Linked DNA regions of Homo sapiens. The protein of the gene in region 2 interacts with the protein of the main gene of each other region in a pairwise test. Each region holds a gene or a part of one and is shown on either strand. Other genes may lie near its edges. The genes, in order: FKBP5 and KSR2.

Region 1 (3,500 bases), on a different chromosome or scaffold from region 2:
GTTATTATTTACATTTTGCAGGTGAGGAGACTAAGCACAGAGATTAAATAACTTGCACAAGTTTACACAGATAGTAAAGGGCAAACTTGGTATTCAAATCCAGGTATTCTGAAGTTAGAGTATGCTGCATTTTTGACCTCTAAAATGTACATCCTCCTTTCTACTGATGGAGAAAGAGGATGAAGATATATAATAAATGAAAAAGTAGTTTAGAACTGAATGTCTAGTTTGCTGTCATTTGTATTTTAAATTTTTTTAAAAAGTGACAGCACACAGTAGGATACCAAAGAAACGTAACAGTTACTTATAAGGAGCAGATGGATGGCCTTTCAGCTTTCACTTTCCATCTCTTTCATGGGTGTTTTAATAATAGGCATGTATTACTTGATTTTTTTTTTTTTTTAAGAGACAGGGTCTCGCTCTGTCACCTAGTCTGGAGTGCAGTGACATAATCATTGCTCACTGTAGCCTCTTACTCCTAGGCTCAAGCTCTTCTCCTGTCTTAACCTCCAAAGTAGCTGGAGCTACAAGCATATGCCACCATGCCGCACTAATTTTTTAAATTTTTGTAGAGATGGAGTTTCACTATGTTGCCCTGGCCGGTCTTAAAACTCTTGGGCTCAAGTGGATGCTCCTGCTTTGGCCTTCCAAAATGCTGAGATGAGAGGTATGAGCCACTATTCCTGGCCACTTACATATATTTTTAACTGAAATAAATGTAGCTGACATTTTGAAAAGTTGTAATATTTAATGAAGATTAAGCTAAAGTCATGAATAAAAAATGGTTTATCTATCCCTGCTTACATACTGTTATGTAGGGTTTCCCTTGTCCTAATATCCTACCACCAGCTCACTTCAAATTCACTTCCTCTGGGGTTCATCTCTTATCTGATCCTACTTTTGAATACTTACATTTTTGTTTTTGTTTTTTGAGACAGGACAGGGTCTCCACTCTGCTGCCCAGGCTGGAGTGCAGTGGCATGATCTCAGCTCACTGCAGCCTTGACCTCCTGGACTCAAGTAGTCCTCTCTCCTCAGCCTGCTGAGTAGCTGGCAAGCACCACCACGCCTGGCTCATTTTTTAAATATATTTTTTTGTGGAGATGGGGTTTCACCATGTTGCCTGGGCTGGTCTCAAACTCCTAAGCTCAAGGGATCTGCCCGCCTTGGCCTCCCAAAGTGCTGGGATTACAGCTGGGATTACAGGCGCGAGCCAACGTGCCCAGCCCCCAGATACTTAATATTTCTGATTGACAGAGTACCTCATTTGTCATTTAGCCTTTTTTTTTTTTTTTTTGGAGACAGAGTCTTGCTGTGTCGCCCAGGCTGGAGTGCAGTGGCATGATCTCTACTCACTGCAACCTCCGCCTCCCAGGTTCAAGCAATTCTCCTGCCTCAGCCTCCTAAGTAGCTGGGATTACAGGCACGCACTACCATGCCTGGCTAATTTTTGTATTTTTAGTAGAGACGGGGTTTCACCATGTTGGCCAGGCTTGAATTCCTGGCCTCAAGTGATCCGCCTGTCTTGGCCTCCCAAAGTTCTGGGATTACAGGCGTGAGCCACCATGCCCCACCAAAATGTAATTTAGCCTTTTAAATGGCCTAAATTTTCTATTGTTTCCGAAAGGACTTGATACTGCTTACAGTAAGATAATGATGCACATCATAGGAACTATAAACATTGAGATTACAATTATATAGCCTAATATAGTTCTACAATTGAGCAGTAAATTTAACTTAGTTTCCTGGAAGTAGGCAAAAAATAAAATATTTTAAGTTCTGTAGTTGTGGTTTGACAAAAAGACACATATGTTTTTGTTTAAAGGAACATTTTTCTGATTCTAAATTTTGAGAAGAAATGTGTTTCATGGACCCTTTTATGCAATTTATCCTGTTCTGGTTACTTCTTGTTTTGTTGTTTTTTTTGTCTACCCAACTAAATTATAAGCTTCCTTAGGACACACTCTATTTTTCAATACTATTTTTGTTCTATCTCTGCCTAGAAAATTTGCGCTTATTATAGTTGAAATGATAAATTAGGCAACAATTGCAACATAGCCATATTTCATGGATAATGTTACCACCAGTTTTCAAAGACTTAATTTTTGAGTAGTTTAGGAATTTATATTACTTTCATCCCTTTCAGCAGGGAATCCTTTTTGAGACAGGGTCTCACTCTGTCACCCAGGCTAGAGTGCAGTGGCATAATCATGACTCACTGAAGCCTCAATCTCCTGGGCTCCCAGGCTTAAGCTGTCCTCCCACCACAGCCTCCGGAGTAGCTGGGACTACAGGTGTGCACCATACCCAGCTGTGTTCTTTGGTTCTTTGGGGTGTTTTTTTTTTTTTTTTAGAGATGAGGTCTTGCTGTGTTGCCCAGGCTGGTGTCAAATTCCTGGACTCAAGCAGTCCTCCCACCTCAGCCTCCCAAAGTGCTGGGCCGATCAACAGGGAATCTTTTGTGATAGCCTTCAAAAAAAATAATTTATTTATTTGTATGTAGCACTCTGTCATCTTGTAGCCCATACTTTCTAGCTGAGTATGTAGTATGAAAAACTGGAAATTAGAACTTTGGTTTTATGAAAGTTAAATCTTTTTAAATAGGGCTTATAGCTTTCAACTACCTTTTCCTTTCCCTTAGGCCAAGTCATCAAGGCATGGGACATTGGGGTGGCTACCATGAAGAAAGGAGAGATATGCCATTTACTGTGCAAACCAGAATATGCATATGGCTCGGCTGGCAGTCTCCCTAAAATTCCCTCGAATGCAACTCTCTTTTTTGAGGCAAGTATGTGTGTGATGTTGCCTTGTCAGCATCTGCTCTACAATAGGAATGGCTTTGAAGCAACAGGCAGTGGGAAAAGGAGCTAAGCTTGCTATAGAGAATCAGATCCAACTTACTTATTTTGGAGCATGGCTTCTTGAATTGTTTCCCACAAACCCAAGGGTGCGCGTGCCAGTGCTTTCTTAGAAACGTGTTTCTAGCACAAAAAGGTCATATCCAAATAAACAAAAGACGCTACACTTAGAAATAAAGATTCTGGTCCATGGTGTGAGTGTGACATACTCAAAATTGACCAGAGTACAGGATGGAAATGTTGGCGATAAATGTTGAAATATGCCTATGTCACGTTGCGGGGTATTTACATATTATAAAAATTTATGTGTCACAGATCTCACTTCTCTAGAAGCCGTTGGTGGTGATAAAACATTATTCATCCTATGTTGAATTACATATATTTGGCAAAACTTGATTTTTAAGAACCACCCCAGCTAGGTAAAATACACCTTTAATCAGTCGTAGGTCACATCCATGAGATTTATTCTTACATTTTGAGAAGGGAACTCCATAAACCCAGGATGGGAAAGTTGTGGCCTCAAACAAAATAGTTCTACACCAGCACCTTGTAGCTCTGGCTTTTTGCCCACAGGGTAGTTTTCCTAGTATTTCCTATCTTTGCACTGCAGTCCCTTAGGATATAGTTCTAGACATTAGCATT
Region 2 (4,030 bases):
ATTGTACATCTATCACTTTAAATCATATGCTAAAAATGATTACGCTTAGTGAGGAAGATACGTCAAAAGCCAAAATGAACTGAAAGCTAGGCTTCTTATGCCAAATGGTCAAGTTGTGAAGGCAAAGGAAAAGTTCTTTTTCTTAAGGAAACTAAAAGTGCTATTCCCGTGAGCACATGAATGATAGGAAAATAAAACAGCCTTATTGCTGATACGGAGAAAGTTTTAGTGGTCTGGATGGAAGATCAAGCCAGACACAACATTCCCTTAAGTCAAAGCCTAATCCAGAGCAGGGCCCTAACTCTCTTCAATTCTATGAAGGCTGAGAGAGGTGAGGAAGCTGCAGAAGAAAATGTGGACACCAGTAGAGGTTGGCTTATAAGGTTTGTGGAAAGAAGTTGTCTCCATAACATAAAAGTACAGTGAAGCAGGAAGTGCTGATGGAGAAGCTGCAGCAAGTTACCTAGATCTAGCTATGATCACTGATGAAAGTGGTTACACTAAATGACAGATTTTCAATGTAAATGAAACAGTCTTATATTCAACGATGCCATCTAGGACTCTCAGAGCTAGAGAGACGAAGTCAGTGCCTGGCTTCAAAGCTTCAAAGAACAGGCTGACTCTCTTGTTAGGGACTACCGCAGCTGGTGACTTTTAAGCTGAAGCCAATGCTCATTTATCATGCCAAAAATTCTAGGGCTCTTACGAATTACGCTAAATCTACTCTGCCCGTACTTTATAAATGGAACAGCAAAGCCTGGATGATAGCACTTTTGTTCACAGCATGGTTTGCTGAATATTTTAAGCCCACTGTTGAGACCGACTGTTTAGAAAAAACAAGATTCCTTTCAAAATATTATTGCTCATCGACAATGCATGTGCTCAACCAAAACCTCTGATGAAGATGTACAAACAGATTATGTGATTTTCATCCCTGCTAATACATCCATTCTGCAGCCCATGGATTAAGGAGTAATTTTATCTTTCAAGTCTTATTATTTAAGAAATACATTTTATAAGGCTATAGCTGCCATAGATAGTGATTCCTCTGATGGATCTGGGAAAAGTAAAATAAAAACCTGCTGGAGGCCGGGTGCAGTGGCTCACGCCTGTAATCCCAACACTTTGGGAGGCTGAGGTGGGTGGATCACCTGAGGTCAGGAATTTAAGACCAGTTTGGCCAACATGATGAAACTCCATCTCTCCTAAAAATACAAAAATTAGCCAGGCATGATGGTGGGCACCTGTAATCCCAGCTACTCAGGAGGCTGAGGCAGGAGAATTGCTAGAACCCAGGAGGTGGAGGTTGCAGTGAGCCGAGATTGCTCCATTGCACTCTAGCCTGGGTGACAGAGTGAGACTCCATCTCAAAAAAAAAAAAAAAGAATCTTCTGGAAAGGATTCCCCATTTTGGATGCCATTAAGAACATTCGTGATCCATGGAAGGAGGTCAAAATATCAACATTAACAGGAGTTTGGAAGAAGTTGATTCCAACCCTCATGGATGACTTTGAGGCATTCAAGATTTCAATGGAGGAAGTAACTGCAGATGCGGTGGAAACAGCAAGAGAACTAGAATTAAAAGTGGAGCCTGAAGATATAACTGAATTGTTGCAATCTCATGATAAAACTTAAATAGACAAGGAGTTGCTTCTTACGGATGAGCAAGGAAAGTGGTTTCTTGAGATGGAATCCACTCCAGGTAAAGATGCCTTGAACATTGTTGAAATGACAAGAAACATTTTAGAATATTGCATAAACTTAGTTGACAAAGCAGTGGCAGGGTTTGAGAGGATCGACTCTAATTTTGAAAGAAGTTCTACTAGGCTATCAAACGGCATCACATGCTACAGAGAATTTTTTGTGAAAGGAAGAGTCTATCTATGTAGAAAACTGCATTGTTGTATTTTAAGAAATTGTCACAATCAGCCCAACTTTCAGCTACCATCACCTTGATCAGTCGGCAGCCATCAACATTGAAGCAAGACCTTCCACCAGCAAAGAGTATGGCTCACTGAAGGCTCAGATGATCATTAGTGTTTTTTAGTATTAAAGTATTTCTAAATTAATGTATGTACATTGTTTTTTAAGACATAATGCCATCATACACTTAATAGACTACAGTATGGTATAAAACATAACTATTCTATGTACTGGGAAACCCAAAATTCGTGTCATTCACTTTGGGATCTTTATCGTGGTGGTCTGGAACCAAACTCACAATATCTCTGAAGTATGCCTGTACTTACTGAAAACAAGTTTTACAAAACAACACTAAAACGCTTACCAGATGCAATGTGTTCCAATATACTCTAGTCTAGGCTAGTCTATTTCATTTTTTTAATGCTGGTCACAAGCCATTAAAATAATGCTATCAACCACAAATGGGTCATGACCACAAATTTAAAAACACAAATGTATTCTAACCTCTTGGGTCCACAGCTGAGAAAGCTAAGATTCAGAGAGGTTAAATCCAAGGTCAAAAGGCTACTTCCTGGCAGGATCAGGACTAGTTTAGACCCAGGTAAATGATGACTGTTGTTATCAGTCTAATAATTGGGACTCACCTCAACTAACGCCTCCTTTATAAATCCTGATCAGAATTCACCTCTACCCATGACCCCCGCTGCCAACATTATTCAGGTTGCTGTTATTTATGTTTTAGTTTTTTTAACACCCCCAGGCCTGCTGCCCTGATATCCCTGTGAACCTGGAGGCATGGTCCCAGGCTAAGTGGTCCCACGGCATTTTCCACATCACCAAACTGACCACTCTGTTCCTCTCCTCTACTGCTTCCTTGCCATGAACCACAGCATCCCCCAAGGTGGGCCAGGGAACTACCAGCCTTGAGGAAGTGATGAGCTTGCTAACTCAGCCAGAAGAAACCTGAAGGGCAAAGCTTAACGCCACCTGAGTCCTGATACACAAATTCCAAAAAACACTAAAGGTGGCCAAGTCAATTTGGAAGGCCTTGAAGAAGTGGGCCATTCAACCCTATCCAGGCAGAATAAATCCTTCAGGGGTCTAGGGAAAGGACAGCATTTAAAAACCAAAGGGCAGCCTCTCTCACTTGGCCTCCATCTTGCAGATTAGAAGATGATGTGTCTGGAGAGTCGGCTTTCTGATCAAGTTTCGCCTTACTAAGTGGTGCACCCTGGGAAAGGGACAGGGAGAAGCACAAAGTGTGGGGCCACCGTAGCAACCAAACCCCAAATGCCTCTTCCACCCTCCACCTTAGCAACCTGCACTCCCAGCCTTCCTGGAACTTTACCCCACATCTTCACCTTGAGGTTTCAGCAGGCCCCAATCTCTGTGGCTCTCACAAAACCATGCAAATCAAACACAACTCCAATCAGAAAAGCATCTATCCTCTGCTTCACCCTCAGAGGTCTCAAACATGCATTCTACGTCTTCAAGCTAGGTTTCACATAGCAGCTTAAATATGACTGTTGTAAAATCACATGTTCCACGTCAATCACTGTAGGGCATTCCCAATGCTTCAGAAAAGAGATCACTCTCTACACTACGGCTTCAGACAGGGCTTGGTAAATCACAGTTCATGGGCCAAATTGGGCCAGGTACCTGTTTTTATAAATAAAGTTTTATTGGAACACTGCCATGCCCATTTGTTTACCTATTGTCTGTGCTGGTTTTGTGCTACATGATAGAGTTGAGTAACTGCAACAGAGACTGAATGGTCTGCAAAGCCTAAAGTATTTACTATCTGCCCCTGTACAGAAAAAGTGTGCCAACCCTTCACTTACAGAATCCTGCCTTTTTAAAATGGTGATAAAATATACATAATATAAAATTTACCATCTTAACCATTTTGAAGTGTACAGTTCAATGGTACTAATTACATTTGCATTGTTGTACAACCATCACCACCATCCATCTCCAGAATGTTTTCATCATCCCAAATGCAAAGTCTATATCCAATAAATAACAACTCCCCATTCTCCCTCCCCTCAGCCCTGGCATCCACCGTTCTACTTTCTGCCTCTATAAATTGTCTACTCTAGGTATCTCA

What was found.
Region 1: the proteins of KSR2 (region 2) and FKBP5 interact in binary tests that used the Homo sapiens proteins (3 or more experiments, as listed by UniProt).

The regions. Positions count from the first base shown.
Region 1 is NC_000006.12:35,619,416-35,622,915, reverse strand, and holds part of FKBP5 (peptidyl-prolyl cis-trans isomerase FKBP5), read left to right. Parts: intron 1-2,641; coding exon 2,642-2,784; intron 2,785-3,500. UniProt on the Homo sapiens protein: Immunophilin protein with PPIase and co-chaperone activities. Component of unligated steroid receptors heterocomplexes through interaction with heat-shock protein 90 (HSP90).
Region 2 is NC_000012.12:117,755,686-117,759,715, forward strand, and holds part of KSR2 (kinase suppressor of Ras 2), read right to left. Parts: intron 1-4,030. UniProt on the Homo sapiens protein: Location-regulated scaffold connecting MEK to RAF. Has very low protein kinase activity and can phosphorylate MAP2K1 at several Ser and Thr residues with very low efficiency (in vitro).